3 linked regions of the Homo sapiens genome follow. The protein of the gene in region 3 interacts with the protein of the main gene of each other region in a biochemical or structural test. Each region holds a gene or a part of one and is shown on either strand. Other genes may lie near its edges.

What was found. The genes of interacting proteins can lie anywhere in the genome.
Region 1: the proteins of DCN (region 3) and COL14A1 form a complex in vitro, tested with the Homo sapiens proteins (one study listed by BioGRID).
Region 2: the proteins of DCN (region 3) and ELN form a complex in vitro, tested with the Homo sapiens proteins (one study listed by BioGRID).

What each region holds. Positions count from the first base shown.
Region 1 is NC_000008.11:120,226,102-120,233,101, reverse strand, and holds part of COL14A1 (collagen alpha-1(XIV) chain isoform 1 precursor), read right to left. Parts: intron 6,476-7,000; coding exon 6,336-6,475; intron 5,883-6,335; coding exon 5,750-5,882; intron 4,393-5,749; coding exon 4,333-4,392; intron 1,636-4,332; coding exon 1,484-1,635; intron 1-1,483. UniProt on the Homo sapiens protein: Plays an adhesive role by integrating collagen bundles. It is probably associated with the surface of interstitial collagen fibrils via COL1.
Region 2 is NC_000007.14:74,066,173-74,070,407, reverse strand, and holds the end of ELN (elastin isoform a precursor), read right to left. Parts: intron 3,677-4,235; coding exon 3,632-3,676; intron 1,752-3,631; coding exon 1,708-1,751; 3' UTR 501-1,707; downstream 1-500. UniProt on the Homo sapiens protein: Major structural protein of tissues such as aorta and nuchal ligament, which must expand rapidly and recover completely.
Region 3 is NC_000012.12:91,151,757-91,158,905, reverse strand, and holds part of DCN (decorin isoform a preproprotein), read left to right. Parts: intron 1-396; coding exon 397-610; intron 611-1,717; coding exon 1,718-1,831; intron 1,832-5,716; coding exon 5,717-5,810; intron 5,811-7,113; coding exon 7,114-7,149. UniProt on the Homo sapiens protein: May affect the rate of fibrils formation.

The DNA.
Region 1 (7,000 bases), on a different chromosome or scaffold from region 3:
AAGTGGGAGAAGGATATTAACAGTCACTTTCTCAAAAGAATACATTTATGCAGCCAACAAACATATGAAAAAAAGCTCATCATCGTTGGTCATTAGAAAAACTCAAATCAAAACCACAATGAGATATCATCTCATGCCAGTTAGAACGGCAATCATTAAAAAGTCAGGAAACAACAGATGCTAGAGAGGATGTGGAGAAATAGGAACACTTTTACACTGTTGGTGAGACTGTAAATTAGCTCAACCATTGTGGAAGGCAGTGTAGCGATTCCTCAAAGACCTAGAACTAGAAATACCATTTGACCCAGCAATCCCATTACTGGGTGTATACCCAAAGCATTATAAATCATTCTACTATAACAATACATCCACACATGTTTATTGCAGCACTACTCACAATAGCAAAGACTTGGAACCAGCCCAAATGCCCATCAATGATAGACTGGATAAAGAAAATGTGGCACATATACACCATGGAATACTATGCAGCCATAAAAAAGGATGAGTTCATGTCCTTTGCAGGGACATGGATGAAGCTGGAAACCATCATTCTCTGCAAACTAACACAGGAACAGGCAACCAAACACTACATGTTCTCACTCATAAGTGGGAGTTGAACAATGAGAACACATGGACACAGGGAGGGGAACATTACACACTGGGTCCTGTTGGGGTTGTGGGGCAAGGGGAGGGATAGCATTAGGAGAAATACTTAATGTAGATGACGGGTTGATGGGTGCAGCAAACTACCATGGTCCATGTATACCTATGTAAAAAACCTGCATGTTCTGCACATGTATCCCAGAACTTAAGTATATTAAAAAAAGATAAATAAATTAGAAAAAAAGAGTGTATCATTTAGAAAAAGGAAAGATAGATAAAACAACTCAAAGAAAACTCAATGTATAAAAATCTAAATCCCTGAGGGGATACATCCATGTTACGAATAATTAGAAATGACTATAAATCTACTCAATACGAGTTGATGTCAATGAAAAATATAACTATTGGTTAACGGATGGTATTTTATTAAGAATATTTTCACTATACCATATAGAAGACCTTTTCTGTGTCCTTTGCTTAAAAGTTTTTTTATCAGATTTCCAAGGGCAGAAGAAATTATTTTCTATATTAAACTTTTATACATGTCTATACATACATATATACAGACACAAGTGCATATGGCCTTTTATGACCCAACTTTGGTGCTCGAACAGGTGCAAGGCAGCAGAAGAGAAGCAATATTTGAAACAATGTTCAGAGGTTATTAACTTGGAGCAAGTTGTACATGGAGCAAGTTTTGGATTTATAAAGGTCACTAAGAAGCCAGTAGTGGAGTCAGATTAACAGAGAACATTAGTTTCTGGAGATGGCAGAGTCACTGAGAAAAGAGCAGTAAAGTTTGCATTGATCTCCGAAGACAGTCTTATTAGCTGTGTTAGTAACATCTGCAGAGTTTCTAGTCAGTTGAATTTATACAGACCGTTCCTATGACTTCTTCCTCAGGGTCCCCTTGAGCTGTCATGTAGGTCACCCTAAACTGCTGCACATCGCTGTCAGAAATGTCCCATTTTACCCGCAGGCTAGAAGTAGTTTCATCACCTACAACTAGGTTTCTGATTCCCGTCTGGAAAACTGGAATAAACACAACCAAGGATTAAAAAACTTTTAACATATCATATTCCAAAATGAGCCACAGAGAATACCTGTGGGGTGACAGCAAGCATCATTTAATGTATCCCTGTAATATAGTTGTATATGAGGCAAGAAGGGCTCAGCTATGGTGCTTAATGGGGAGGCATGATACCTACTAGCAGCAAATAAAAGTGGAATTAAGAGATGCTTACAAGATGAGACCATGGAGCCCTCAAAACTGTCAGTTCTGTATGTGCACTAGTAAAGAGAACTGGGAAGAAGCCCTGAGACTAGAAAAACAGCCCATGGAACCCAAAGGAAAGAGTGGTCATGAGAACCTCACACTAGTGCTCTGTGGACAAGTGGGCACAGTGGGCCAGACTTTGTCCACCTCTGTGTGCAATCCAGCATCCAACACACATCCCAATCACCTGCCCTCACCTCCATTTCTCTTTTAACACCTGTCATTCAAAGCACAAATCTGCGCTCAGGCTGCCTTTATCCATTCAGCCCACACAGACACGATCTTTTCTCTGGTACTTGTCCAAACTCCTTTACCTGTGTTTCCTGGCACATTCGTGCTCATCTCTCAAGGTGCCTGCTCCCTTATTTGTTGCATTTTTTTCTTTTCTCTTCTACCCTAACTTCATTTCCCTTTGTCCATCTTTTCTCATTCTCCTTTCTCTTCATTCATCTATTAATTCATTTAGAAAATATTCATTGAACTTTTTCTGTGTGTCAGACTGTTAGGGCTTTGGTTTTTATATAGTTATTAACTCAACAAAAATAGTAAAAGTGTCACAGAGGAGGAGGGGGTTGACATTTACCTGGCAACATTGCAGGGGGGCTACCAGGCAATGGGAATGGGAGGGAACTTCTCACATTTAGGGAAAGGAGTTCGGGATTGCAAGAGAAAAACGGGGGAAGCATAGGAAATATGGTTGAGGCCAGGAAGGGAAGCAGGACCCAACTAGGAAGGATCTTGGATGCTGTGAAAAAGACTTTAAAGCACAAAGAAGGCTTGATAAGGATTAAATGAAGAATGAACAAATCAACAAATGGGTAATGGAGAGCCATTGAAGTGTCTTAGAGAAGTAAATAAATGATATTATCAAACTTGTGTTTTACCAAGTTGACTCTGACAGCTAGTTGGGAGGTGTATTACAGTGAAGGGGAAAGCTAAGCTGAGAGAGGAAACAACTAATGTAGGAAAAACAATAGACCAGCCAAGTGTCAGTTACCCACAGAAATGCAAGGAAAACATGGTAAGAATAATTCTCAACAAGGCCAGGCATGGTGGCTCATGCCTGCAATTCCAGAACTTTGGGAGGCCAAGGATGAAGGAACATTTGAGCTCAGGAGTTAAAGACCAGCCTGGGTAATATGGAAAGACCTCATCTCTACTAAAATTCAAAACGATTAGCCAGGCACGATGACACATGTCTGTAGTCCCAGCTACGTGGGGGGCTGAGGCTGGAGGATCACATGAGCCCAGGAAGTCAAGGCTGTGGTGAGCCTTGATCGTGGTGCTGCACTCCAGCCTGGATGACAGAATGAAACCCTGTCTCTAAAAGAAAAAAAGAGAAAAGAAGGGGAATTCTCAACAGAGAGCAACAGAAGTGCAAATCAAAACCACAATGAGATACCATCTCACACCAGTTAGAATGGCAATCATTAAAAAGTCAGGAAACAACAGGTGCTGGAGAGGATGTGGAGAAATAGGAACACTTTTACACTGTTGGTGGGACTGTAAACTAGTTCAATCATTGTGGAAGACAGTGTGGCGATTCCTCAGGGATCTAGAACTAGCAATACCATTTGACCCAGCCATCCCATTACTGGGTATATACCCAAAGGACTATAAATCATGCTGCTATAAAGACACGTGCACATGTATGTTTATTGTGGCACTATTCACGATAGCAAAGACTTGGAACCAACCCAAATGTCCAACAATGATAGACTGGATTAAGAAAATGTGGCATATATACACCATGGAATACTATGCAGCCATAAAACATGATGAGTTCATGTCCTTTGTAGGGACATGGATGAAATTGGAAATCATCATTCTCAGTAAACTATCGCAAGGACAAAAAACCAAACACCACATATTCTCACTCATAGGTGGGAACTGAACGATGAGAACACATGGACACAGGAAGGGGAACATCAGACTCTGGGGACTGTTGTGGGGTGGGGGGAGGGGGGAGGGATAGCATTGGGAGATATACCTAATGCTAGATGACGAGTTAGTGTGTGCAGTGCACCAGCATGGCACATGTATACATATGTAACTAACCTGCAAATTGTGCACATGTACCCTAAAACTTAAAGTATAATAATAATAAATAAAATAAAATAAAATAAAATAAAAAGAAAAAAAAAAGAGGAGGGCAAAGACCCCTGGGGAGGCAGCTACGTTAACATCCCAGGTAAGGTGCATGAGCATCCAGACAAAGATGAAAGAGGTAGAGTGATGTATCAGTGAGATCAGTTGACTAGGAGATCCATGGGCATTTAGTGGCAAGGAAGGTGTTGAGAGGCTCTGAGAGGCGTGAAATTTGAACCAGTGTGCCAGAAAAGGAAGGGAGGGTCATCTCTTTTCCTAGTTAATAATAAATAAAACCAGGATAATATAACATCTGTTTAAAGAAAATTTTTAAAGTGGTTAAGCAGGCTACTATTTGACCTTACCTGAAGTCACAGATGTGGTAGGCACTATGGTTGTAGCTGGTTCTGTCCAAAAACTGTCAACTAAAAGCAATATATTACTTTAAAATGCTGCAAAAACAACTGTCCATTTTTCTATAGCATGTTGTAGCTTTCAAAGAACATTTCACCTATATTATCTCACTTGCCTCCCACAACAAACATGACAATGGTTAGAAGACGAAAGAAATGAATTGTAAGTAAGGCAGACATACCTGTGCCACAGATAAGAAAACTGAAACCCAAAGAATGTTAAAGTTTCTCATCACAGATACCAGGCTTCATATAAACATTTGAACTACATCTACAGAATTGTGAAACCACCCAATTACTTTGAAATAGGGGCACAGCCATGGTAATTAAGGGAAATTAGACAGTGCTGTAGACCAAGTTGTGAAAAGGCTGCCAAACAGGACCACCACGGAATGCAATGTGCTTGGACAAGCAATGCATCTTCTATTTCTTACAGCCACCGTGGGCATATAGCAGAATGAAGTACAGATGTGGTGCTCTTCCCAGATCCTCTTTTTAGGGTCAACACACCAATCCACTTGGTGCTGGAACACTGCCTGCCAACAGTTCACAGCTCTGGGAACTGTCTCGCCTGAGTTCATGGCCTCTGTCAGGGAATGGCTCACCTCCAGCGACTGGGGATGCAAGGGTATGAAGTCTCAGCCCCTTTGTCTCAATTTGGGACAACTCAGAAGGGTCATCCCAGCACTAGACCTCCATTATAATAAGATTAGCTGAGGGTTCAGTTTCAACTTCTTCCCATGCCCCCTCCTGCTGTCCTCAGTTTTTTACGTAAGCATCTCCCAACTGCACTCTTCAATAAACTTTCTGGCTGCAATTTCTGTCTAGAATCTGGTTCCAGGGAACCCAGGCAAAGGCAATTTAATATGTGGTCAATACCTCATATTTTAAAAATGAAGAGATGAATGAATCAGCAAGTAAATTTTGTACAAGACTCTTGGAACCAATATCAACTTGGAAAATTCCAGAAACTCTTTGACATGTTGGCCCTAGGTTTATTTGTTTGGCAATCTATTCATTTGTAAATTATTTTATCCATTCTTGCATACATCCATTCATCTATCCATCCATCCATTTGATGGGTGTTTACTCTACAGTTAACATGTGCCAAGTACTGTGCTAAGTCCTGGAAAATATAATGGTGAGCAACACAGATATGGTCCCTGCCTTCATGTTGATCATTATCTAGGAAGCTAAGATGCTTCACATACTGGTTTCATTGAAAGTGAAGATATATGAAGAATTCTGGGGGACAAAGAGAAATTGAAGCTTACATAGCCAAAGATAAAGCAGATGGGGAAGGAAATTGATGGGGTAAAGAGGGATTGTGGGAGCAGCTAAAACGCACTGTGGCCAGACCAAGACTTACGTGTGGTCCCGACAGCAGTCACCACCTCACTCTCGCTTCCATCATCAAGTACGGCCAATAGTGAAACTTCATACTCCGTACCGGGCTCCAGGCCTTCAATAACATGTGAGTCCTGCTCTTCTTTCAGGACAACCTGAAATATATTTTGGTGCTTAGTAACTATGCTTATTTGAAAAAAAAGTAAAGAAAAAGTGTTATTCTGAGCATAAGCAAGAAACAACCAATCATAAAGAACTCCAAGGCTGTCGAAGTCCATTTTAAGGTCAAGCCAGAGACTTTATTCCTTTCAATCCCCTCAGCAAATAAATTATTAATATTGCAAAAGTGACATTTTAAAGTTGTATTAAATGTCATTTATTAAAGTCAAAGAATCTGAAAATATATAAATATATAACTAAAGCTCTGGCAACAATACATCATAATATTAGGAAAATCTTATGATTTGACATTTCTAAAACTCCAAGCCATGTAAAATACTAATTACTTCTGGGATTCCTAATATATTTTAAAGTGAAGACCAACTCCAGCAGCAGTAGGTATTCACTAATGCTCCAGATTAATTTTCAGTCTGTTTCAGAAAACTCACCTCCTCAGTCTTCCCCCCATAGACTGGAATCCACATCAATTTGTGTAGCCCTTCATCAGCTGAGAGGGGATGCCAGGTCACCCTAAAACTGTCTGTCGTCACCTCATCAATTTCTAAGTATTGCTGGGCTGGAACTTCCTCTGTAAACCGAGGAAGGAGGTTTTGTTAGGGAAATGAGAAGGCAAGAAAGCCAAAACCCAAGTATCTCCCAGGGGTGTAGAAGACTCTTTGAGGAATCTTTTGCTTTAGGAAAGCACAGGAAAGAAGGAAAACTGGGGCCCATCAGTCCAGGGTGGCCTTCCATTTCTGTTTCCAGCATTCACCAATATCATAAATTAGGGAAACCATGGAAATAACAGATCTTAAAACTTTTCCAGTAATTTCCAAAACTCTTAGCTTTTCTATTTGGCTGTTTTCATTAACTATAAAAAACAAGAGTGCCATATTCATTTTTTTTTTAAATATTATTTTCCAAGTATCTTGAGGAAATTAACAAAATAGGGGCCTAAGAAAGCTTCCCTTTTAGTTCTATTTGCTTTAGTGGCTAAATTGCTCCCTGGTATTAATCCTGGAAAAGAAACTTCAATCTTTTAACTTGTACATATGGTGGTCATCAGAAATGAAATAGAATTTATCAGGCCTTCCACTGTTTCAGAGCTTACACA
Region 2 (4,235 bases), on a different chromosome or scaffold from region 3:
GACTGTCTTCTGCATTTTCTTAGGTCAGCCATCTTTCCTCTCTGTCTCTTTCTGTTTCTCTCTCTCTCTCTCTCGAGACAGGATCTTGCTGTCTCACCCAGGCTGGAGTGCAGTGGCGCAATCATAGCTCACTGCAGCCTCGAAATCCTGGGCTCAAGCGATCCTCCCACCTCAGCCTCCTGAGTAGCTGGGACCACAGGCATGCACCACCACCAATCTTGGGTAATTTTTTTTTTTTTTGTAGCTATATGGTACAAAGTGATTCTCCACTGGACAGCTATGTTGTCCAGGTGGGTCTCAAACTCCTGGCCTCATTGTTAAAGTACAAGCCAAACTTGGAGAAAGATCGATGCCCCAGAAGCCAGCAGCAGGGGCTTTTGGTTGGGCAACCTCTCAAATACACTGTGGGTGGTGGAGGTTCCCTGAAGCAGAGCCCTTATCCCCATCCAGGCCAGCGAGTTGAAGGCAGATTAAATCATACGAAGGAAGCTAAGACACAGTTTCCTTTAAAGGTTTTTCATTTATTAGTCATTTCTGAAGCAGTTAATTCTCTTTTCTTATTAAAAAAAAAGGTGTGTTTCATCCAGAGTTATATTAGAGTGATTAAAATGTTTTTTCTACTGGGGATACAGCTCCCCGGATCAGAAAAAAAAATTATCTTTTTTTTTCAATGAACCACAACAATAAAACCAAAAGAGAATATCAACAATCAAAAATAATCCCCAAATATCCAGGACAAAAAATAAAATATTTATTGATCTATCACAGCGAGACACAAAAAGATGGGCGGGGCAGGAATGGGAACTGCTCTGAAGTTCAGTGGACCGAGGGAGGGATGGGGGGTATACAGTACTGCATGTGGGGACACCCCGGGTGGGGAGGAGATGCCTGGCACCCCAGTCTGCACAGCCCCGCACGCCCTGGGGGAGTGTAGGATGGGGGTGGAGGCAGGGCACAGGCGGCCATGACAGGTCAACCAGGTTGATGGTGGGTGCACCCAGCCAGCTAGTGGTGCCGGGCGGTCAACTGGGGACATGGATGGACGGACCGATGGATGAATGGACGGATGGGCGGATGGATTCTACAAGGGCAAGGTGGCTATTCCCAGTGTGGGGTGGTTTTCCAACCCAAAAGCGCCCCAGATGTGGGGAACAGCGATCGGTGGGGAGGAGACGGCCAAGTGGACCCAGGAGAGGAGGGATGCTAGAGCGAATCCAGCTTTGAGGCTTCAGGTGCTTGGGTACCAACTGGATGGCAGCCAACGGTGGGTCCTGGTGGGCAGGGGGAGCTGGGACTGCCCAGGAAGTGTCTGCACCATCTTTAGAGGAGCCCCAGGTAGGGGGTTCCCCGAGGGGCCACCCTTCCCTCCTCCCTCCCCCCAGGAAGATAAGAGCACCAGCGTGTAGCACCAAGTTCCCCTGGAGATGGAGGCTGTGTGGAGGGGGAGCTCCTAGGTGGGAAGGGATGGGGTGGGGGGCCAGGACCACATGGCCCTTGCCTCTGAAGTAGGGGGCCTCCTGGTCGGGGCACTTGGCCGCTCCCCTCTTGTTTCCTTGCCCTGTGGATCTGCAAGGCCGCCCGGCCTGCCCGTTCCCTCCTGGGGTGGGGAGTCGGAGGGGCATGGGATGGGGTTACAAAGGGTTTACATTCTCCACCAAGCAGTAGCACCAACGTTGATGAGGTCGTGAGTCAGGGGTCCTAGGAAGCTCATTTTCTCTTCCGGCCACAAGCTTTCCCCAGGCAGGCCCCACCTGGACGGGAGGAGGTGCACATCACTGTGAGTCCGGCCCCTCTCAGTTTCGGCTCTAATCCCCGCCTGCTCTGACCCACTCGAATGGAGGCTCCAAGAAGCCAAGAGAAGCCAAGTCATGGCCCCAGGCCAAACTCAGACCTGATCCATGCCATCAACTTCCACTGGACAGATGGGGCGGGAGAAGCCCCCAAGATATTACTTGGATGAAACCAACGCTCGCAGAAAAGGGGGCAGGTCATGGGGCCTGGCTGGGGAAGGACGGGGCCTGGCACTGGCTCCTGGCTCCACTGCTCCAAGAAGCCTTTCGGGGAAAGGCTAAGAGCAGCTCCATCAAGGAACATGGGATGAAGGGAGAGTCAGTGTCTGCAGGAGACGGCCCTCTCAGGGAGTGGGGTGGACCCATACATCTGAGAGGGCATCAGATAAGTAAATCAAGGCCCAGTAGAGGGAGAGAGGGTCTTATCCACATAGTGTCTGAGCTGGGACTCAAACCCAGGATTCCTACCCCCTCCTGGGAATAGTCTGATGGGTGAACCCTGTTTCAAGGCATCAGTCTGTATTAGGTAAGGCACCATTGTCTAGTAGCGCGGCCCGGAGCAGTTCCTAACCCTGCTTGAGCCAGATATGGCTCCTTACCGCCACCTGGTGGCAGTGAGCAGAGAGTGGGGCAGGAACAGACATCTGCCTCTGAAGGTTTTTTTTTTTTTTTTTTTTTTTTTTTGAGACGCAATCGTCTTGCCCTGTCATCACCCAGGCTAGAGGGCAGTGGTGTAGTCTCAGCTCACTGCAACCTCCGCCTCCTGGGTTCAAGCAATTCTCCTGTCTCAGCCTCCAGAGTAGCTGGGATTACAGGCGTGCACCACCACACCTGGCTAATTTTTTTTTTTTTTTTGAGACGGAGTCTTGCTGTGCCGCCCAGGCTGGAGTGCAGTGGCGCAATCTCGGCTCACTGCAAGCTCCGCCTCCCGGGTTCACACCATGCTCCGCCTCCCGGGTTCACACCATTCTCCTGCGTGAGCCTCCCGAGTAGCTGAGACTACAGGTGCCCGCCACCATGCCCGGCTAATTTTTTGTATTTTTAGTAGAGACGGCCGGACGTGGTGGCTCACTCCTGTAATCCCAGCACTTTGGGAGGCCGAGGCGGGCGGATCACGAGGTCAGGAGTTCGAGACCAGCCTGGCCAATATGGTGAAACCCCGTCTCTACTAAAAATACAAAAATTAGCTGGGCGTAGTGGTGTATGCCTGTAGTCCCAGCTACTTGGGAGGCTGAGGCAGAAGAATCGCTTGAACCTAGGAGGCAGAGGTTGCAGTGAGCCAAGATCGTGCCACTGCACTCCAGCCTGGGCAACAGAGCAAGACTCCATCTCAAAAAAAAAAAGAAGACTATAGTATTTTTAGTAGAGACGGGGTTTCACCGTTTCAGCCAGGATGGTTTCCATCTCCTGACCTCGTGATCCACCTGCCTTGGCCTCCCAAAGGGCTGGGATTACAGGCGTGAGCCACCACACCCGGCTAATTTTAGTATTTTTAATAGAGACAGGGTTTCGCCATGTTGGCCAGGCTGGTCTTGAACTCCTGACCTCAGGTGATCTGCCCTCCTCAGCCTCCCAAAGTGCTGGGATTACAGGTGTGAGCCATCACACCTGGCCATGAACTGTGTTTTTAAAAAGCAAATGTTCCCTGTGTTTATAAGAGGTCAGCAAGAAGGAGGGGAGGCTCTACATTCAGCTCGGGGTCCAGCCTCGTGTGACCTGAGGCTGTGGGGTCCACCCCTGGGTGCTGGCTCAGCCCTTCTGAGCAGGAGATGGCACAGGAGAGGAGGGAGGAGGTGGCTGCAGCTCCAGGGCAGGGCCCAGGGGCAGGGAGCCTGGCATACCTGGGAAAATGGGAGACAATCCGAAGCCAGGTCTTGCTGCCACTCCTGCAGGAGAGATTTCAGGTTGGTGGGTTGGTAGGGGTGGAAACTGACTCCAGCCTCATCACTTTCTGCCTGCACTGGCTCACCCAAGACCTCTGTCTGGGATCACCTCCTCTCCATCCCCCCCACTATATAATTTTTTATATTTTATTTTATTATTATTTTTTTGAGATGGGGTCTTGCTCTGTCACCCAGGCTGGAGTGCAGTGGTGCGATCTTGGCTCACTGCAACCTCCGCTTCCCAGGCTCCAGTGATTCTCCCGCCTCAGCCTCCCGAGTAGCTGGGATTACAGGCGTCCACCACGTTTGGCTAATTTTTGCATTTTTTTTAGTAGAGACAGGGTTTCACCATGTTGACCAGACTGGTCTCGAACTCCTGACCTCAAGTGATCCACCCACCTAGGCCTCCCAAAGTGCTGGGATTACAGGCGTGAGCCACCACGCCCAGCCAATCCCCCTCACTACAGCCAGAGTGGCTTTCTCAACACAACATGCCGCCACCTAGCAACCAGGTGTGGCACCTCATGGCCTCAACCCTGAGCTCAGCCTGGCACTGTCCCCA
Region 3 (7,149 bases):
ACTGCAACCTCTGCCTCCCAGGTTCAAGTGATCCTCCTGTCTCAGCCTCCCAAGTAGCCGGGACTACCGGCACCCACCACCACGCCCAGCTAATTTTTGTATTTTTGATACAGACGGGATTTCGCCATGCTGGCCAGGCTTGTCTCGAACTCCTGGCCTCAAGTGATCCTCCCACCTCAGCCTCCCAAAGTGCTGGGATTACAGGCATGAGCCACCGCACCTGGCCTATACACTTCTTAAGTAAAGAAATAATACTTACTTAATTTTTTTCTGATTTCTTGCAATTTTTTAGATTTCTCTGCTATCCCTATGAATGGAATGAACAAACATGCCCTTGTTTTACATGTATGTGGAAGGTTTTGGATTTAAAGAGATGTTTTTCTTCACTATCTACAGGCATTGATTCTTGTCAACAATAAAATTAGCAAAGTTAGTCCTGGAGCATTTACACCTTTGGTGAAGTTGGAACGACTTTATCTGTCCAAGAATCAGCTGAAGGAATTGCCAGAAAAAATGCCCAAAACTCTTCAGGAGCTGCGTGCCCATGAGAATGAGATCACCAAAGTGCGAAAAGTTACTTTCAATGGACTGAACCAGATGATTGTCATAGGTACAGACATTTTTATAACTTTAAGACCAAAACTCAAGTTTTTATCTTAAGAGATTTCAACTGGGTTTTAAGTGCAGGAAGGTAAATTAGCTACAAGCTACATGCCTGGAGCCTATGTGATTTATAAGAACAGGGCCAAGAGAAATTGGGATTTTGAATCTGGACCTTACAGTGATGTTTTTATGTATGTCCTTGAGTATCTGAGAATATGGAGAAAACCCTAGGGCTGAAGTTACCCTACCACACACACAATATGCAAAGATGAGTTTAAATAGTGCTTAACTACAGATATTTTGAGATACCTTTCCGTTTTGGGGACCTGTTGTATTCTAAACACTCATAAATCATTTGCTTTAAAAATATGTTATGGCTGGGCGCGGTGGCTCATGCCTGTAATCCCAGCACTTTGGGAGGCCGAAGCAGGCGGATCACGAGGTCAGGAGATCGAGACCATCCTGGCTAACATGGTGAAACCCCATCTCTACTAAAAATACAAAAAATTAGCCGGGCGTGGTGGTGGGGGCCTGTAGTACCAGCTACTCGGGAGGCTGAGGCAGGAGAATGGCGTGAACCCGGGAGGCGGAGCTTGCAGTGAGCCGAGATGGCCCCACTGCACTCCAGCCTGGGTGACAGAGTGAGACTACGTCTCAAAAAAAAAAAAATTTCTCTAAACATATAGTAAAAATTGTAATTTTATTATTGGCTTATAAAATGCTAGATTGAAATTCTTTAACAAAATTTTAAAATACCTTAGGAAAATAATAAATAACGTAAGATGGGAATTGTAAACTTGCTTTAGTTGATTTCTGGGCAAACCTGTGTATGCATCTTAAATAATTTTATTGGTATTGCTTTCACTAATAGTCTTTTTCATAAGTCATTATTATTCATAAGTCATTGTCTGTTTGGCTTTTGTTTTAATAAGGGAAATTTTTATCCTATTTTGCTATTCTCCTGAGGAGCATGCTCTTTAACTTCACTTTTGTTTTTTAGTCAAGTTGATATTAATCCCTATTTCTTTATAGGTTGCTTGCTGAAACAGATACTACAGTGACTAGTAATATCCTAAAATTTCCTCTAAAAGCCTTGCACTTATTACATTTGTAGAACTGGGCACCAATCCGCTGAAGAGCTCAGGAATTGAAAATGGGGCTTTCCAGGGAATGAAGAAGCTCTCCTACATCCGCATTGCTGATACCAATATCACCAGCATTCCTCAAGGTGATAGAAGATTCTCCAAAACATTTTGAAAAATTTAAATTCAAAGGCTTTAATTAAAAAAAAAAAATCTTGTGGAAACTGGAATTGTCACCTAAGAGGCCAACCTTATTTCCAGCAAATTCTCTATTACTGCTAGTGTTTCATCCAGTGTTTATATTTCCAGCAAATTCTCTATTACTGCTAGTGTTATATCCAGTGATTCAGTCTGGATGACCACGGGGCCATCCAGGCTCACTGTAGAGATGGGTAGACTCCTGTTAATGTCTAGTTTAAGACACAACTTAATGCACAGTGATTTTATAATATTGTAAAATCACAAAGAAAAAGTACATTTATTTAAAAAATAGCATGCCTTGGTGTTTGTAAAAAAAAAAAAAAAGATATATGGGAGTACCTCTGAAATTGATCCAATTTTTATCTTGAGTCTGCAATAGCTTAGGGAATTTTTTTTTCCTTTTTAAGACACTCCAGTTATTAATATCTGAATGATAGTGGTAGTTGTGTGTTGTGAAGAGTGTAGATTTTGGAGTCAGTTTGCTTGAGCCCAAATTACCATAAAGTGGTTCAAAGACTTTGAAAAAGTTATTCATTTGTCCTCTATCTCTTTATCTGTCAAGTGGAAATAATACTGCTATCCACTTCATTGAGTTGTTTTAAAGTTAAATAAATAATTAGAGAAATATTTAGCATATAGATAAGTAGGGAATTAATATAACTCTCTATTATGCATTAAAAATGTTCTGAACAATCAGTATGTGTAGGCGATGTACCAAACACTTAAGACAGGGCAGGGAACAGGATATGCTACATGCCTTTAGGAGCTTACTCTCTAAAACCAAGCCAGACAAATACACAGCAATGACCACATAGCCACAAGGGTAAGTTCATTGTTCCAAGGGATTCCCAGGAGAGGCACAAAAGCCAGTCTTTGTGAATTACAAAAGGCATCAAACCACCAATAATAAATTCCTCTAACTTGCACATCGTCCCTACTCTGGGTTTTTCAGTCTCACAGAAGCCCTCTATATTATCTAGTTTTCCCCTCAGTCTGTCCCTTTCTCAACTTAGATGCCTTGTTCTTGAGTGCGTACAAAATGTAGACATTTGGCCACAGAAAACACCAGTTGTCCTTTATTGTTCTTTTACAGAAATTTCAACTCCTGAGAGTACATATTCCATAGGATGCTTTCTTACCACCCCTTGCCCTCCTCCTAGTCTTTTGAATACAGAGCATGCTTTTGACTTCCTTAGTAGCAACTACTGGCATAGATAGATACATAGATGATAAAGACTGATTTATAATTCATAAAGCACTTTCATGTTGAGTCTCCAATTTTTTGCATGTAACAAGTAATCTTTTGCTATCCCCAGTGCAGGAATGAAATATTTATATCTCAGATAGATATAAATTGGGGATTGATATAGATAGATAGATAGATAGATAGATAGATAGATAGATCTTATTAAAATTCTTGCTGAAATTTATTTCATGCAGCCAGATGACTTACATTTAGCACAATCTCAGACTTTGCTGTCCCTCTTAATGCATGCTCCAAAATATCCTTCACTGATACCTTTTATCATTTCATGATCTCTTTTCCTTTACTTTGCTATGTCTTCTATCTATCCCAGGTATTCTTTCCTCATCATTTATAGCTTGCTTTTATTTACTACCGCTTAATAGAAAAGTTAAGTAACTACAATTTATTAAGCATGTATTTAGTTCCGGGTATCATGCCAAATGCTTGTCATGGAGTCTTCTATATGATTCTTACAACGTCCCTATATAGTAGGGTTATAATTCCTGTTTCATAAAAGTGGAAAATGAGGCTTAAACAGGTAAAGAAAATTGTAATTAAGTTCTTAGAGCTAGGAAGCGGCAGAGATGGAATTGTGTGGTGCTGATGTCAGAACTCGTGTGTTTAACTATTTCACTCTGTTGGCATATTAAGTCCTCCTTTCTATTCATCGTTATGCTTATCTAATACATGATTCCACCTTGCTTAGGCTGGGATACCTATGCCTGAATATCAGCAACCTCCTGGTGATATTTTCTCCCATCACTCATGGAAATGGAAAGGCAGTAGAAAGTAGTGTAGAGACTATAAAAATCATACACTTAGATCAACCTGGGTGAGAGACCTAACTCAGTCATTTAGTTGTACTGTGACTTTAGGATAATTATTCTGCATTTCTATAACCTCAGGTTTGTTAGATGTTACATGGAGCTATTAATAACCCTGTCTACTAGGATTATTGTGAGGATTACTCTATAGAAGTAAGGCTTGTATTGTACACGCAAGTACTTGGCCCAATGTAAACCTCAATATATTTTATCTTAAAAAAGGAAAAGAAAAAAGAAAATTTAAAATAAATGAACAAACAAATAAATAAAATAACTGGAGTATGGGTTCTTTAACTCAATGCCACAGTTGCAGAAGCTAATGATGCACTTTACAAATTTGTCTATCTCAAACCTATTGCAAGGTTTTCTCCCATAGTCAAACTTCTTCTTAGCTATAACTTTACATTTGGGAAACTGACATCCCAAAAAGGGAGACACTTTGAAACTAAGTAAGGCCGATGGTTGTGATAGCAATTGGTGTACTGGAGGCACTGCATTAAAAAATATACATTTTGCATTACTTTGTAATTACTTTGTAACTTTGAGTCTTATTTATTTAACTGTGAAAAGGGATTAGTGACCAATAATTTATGTTTTGAGAGGCTTAAAGGATTTGAAGTAGGAAAAGTGCCAAGGTCAATGTTCGGTGCGTAACAGACATACAATAAATAGATGTTCCTTTTCCTAGCAGCTCTAACACAAAATATGCTACCATAGGAAACTAAGAATCATTTTCAAGTCAAATATGGACTAAACTATTTTATTAAATGGACAATATTGACAGAATTCAGTGTGATGTGATAAAAATTTTAGACAAAATGAAACCTGTGGTTTTTCAATTCTGTGTCTTTATAGACAAATAGCCAAGACTTTCTGCCAATCAGATGTTCTTTCTACACTTAACCAATTTGCTATTTTCTCTGTATCTATTGCTATTAAGTGGAACAATATGTTATTTTAAAAGCTGTATAAAATATAATACAGCCTCAGATGCTAGGAGGAAATGAAAATAAAATATTTAAACTTTTATATTTATAATACTCGATCTTTGGAAATCACAGCCATGCAAGTACTATCTAGAGGTTTAGTGGGTACTTTGGATGTAAAATTATTACCCCAGGTGCTCCACATATGGCAGATCACTTGATTATAGACCTCTCCACTCCTTCTGCATAAACATTCTGGATTTAATAGGCATAAGTAAATGTTAGCTGTTTCTACACAGACATTTTGCAGAGGTATTTGATGCTTTTATGGAAAAGTCAATTAAGGCTAAGACCAGCACAGTATATCAGTGTTAATTTTTAATGATGCTCATTAATGAAATAGACAATTAAGTTTGTACATGGGTTTAATTTATACGTAATCTCTTCATTATGGTTCGAATAGTGACTTTCCCACTTTATAATTACTATCTTTTATCAACGTCAGTTTTAGCCCATTAACAAAGGTGGAAGAGAATAATGAGACTCAGCGTTGACTTCAGTTCTTCTATTCCAAGAACAAAAATTGACTACATGATAGAAATCATCCAGGTTTTTGTTAAAGTCAACCTAAGAGAAAAATAGCAAGGGCTTCCACTACTTCCAAAAGCACACATTATTATAAAAGGGATGAAAAAAAAAGATAAAAGTAAAGCTGATTCTTTGAAACTGTGTGTCTTTTAGAAAATTGATGGCATATGTCTTCTTTAAGTTTGTCCACATTCTGTACTTATAATGTTTATCTGCTAATTTAACATCTTTAATTCCACATTCCAGGTCTTCCTCCTTCCCTTACGGAATTACATCTTGATGGCAACAAAATCAGCAGAGTTGATGCAGCTAGCCTGAAAGGACTGAATAATTTGGCTAAGTAATAATATTCTTTCATGACATTCTATCAGAACAATGGCTAGGTATATTAGTGCTTATATGATAAGAATTATAAACATGATGATTGATTTTTGAGTGTACTACATTTCACTGCTGTTGTTGTTTCTATAATCTCAAACTTCAGCATATCCAATTATTTCTTGAGAAGAAGCCAATGAAATAGTGCCCTTACTAAAACCACCAAGATCAGCTTCATATTTTATTAATACTATACTGTTTATAGATTAGTTATATTTTATACACAAAGTGTGTGATTAAATCAATATGTGCATTTAATATGTTCTAACTTATTTGCATCAAACAGAAAGTTAAGTAAATTATAACACAGTTGCTAGAATTTGAAAATCCATTAAAATGAAATCTACCAAGACAGAGAAATATTGAGCATCACACAAATTACTATTTTAATAATTATGAGATTCTCTAACCCCCTCTTCTCTGAAAAGTTTAAAATAAAATATCTCTGGGCATTTAATGTAGATCAACAAAAGAAAAGCTTTTGTTGTTGTTGTTTTTGCTGGCCCTTCTTAATGATTTTTTTTAAAATAAGTGATACTAGTACTTGTCCTGGTTTCAAACATAACTTCAATCTGGCAAACGTTTTCACTTGTCTTCAAGGAACACTATGTTCTTTTTGATCTGTACATATTGCTGACTGTCCCTACAGAGAAGCACACTATCATGCCAGATTTACTCATTCCTGTTGTTATATATAAATTTCATGGTGGATAAATAAATATAAAATATATCTTTGAATGTGTATATATATATATATGCATGTGTGTGTGTATAATCAACTCCTTTACTAGGTAAAATATTCTTTGATGGGAAAAGTGGTTTTTGATCCATGAGACCTCTGTCCCTCACAATGCCTAGCATAATATCATGCACATAAGTTTTCAAGAATATTTGTTTATTAAATATACAAATAAATGTTTGAATAAGTGAACAGTTTTTAAAAATAAACTATTAGGAATATTATGTTCCAATATTATGGTTGACCATAATTTGATGTTGGAACTTAGGATATTATAAGGAATAGGAGACTATGTCCAATCACGTTCTGTCAGATGAATCTCAAAGACAGTAACTTTGAGCCGAGACCTTAACAATAAATGGACTTTGTCCAGGCTCAGAGAGGTTGGAGAAAGCACTCCAAGAACTGGGAAGAGTAAGTGCAAAAACAAAAAATGTCCTTTCCTATAGACTTGATTAACTACACAATGCTTGTAAGAAAGGCATCCATGTGTGGTGTTTGCTTTCATTTCTGCTTTCTGTTGCAGGTTGGGATTGAGTTTCAACAGCATCTCTGCTGTTGA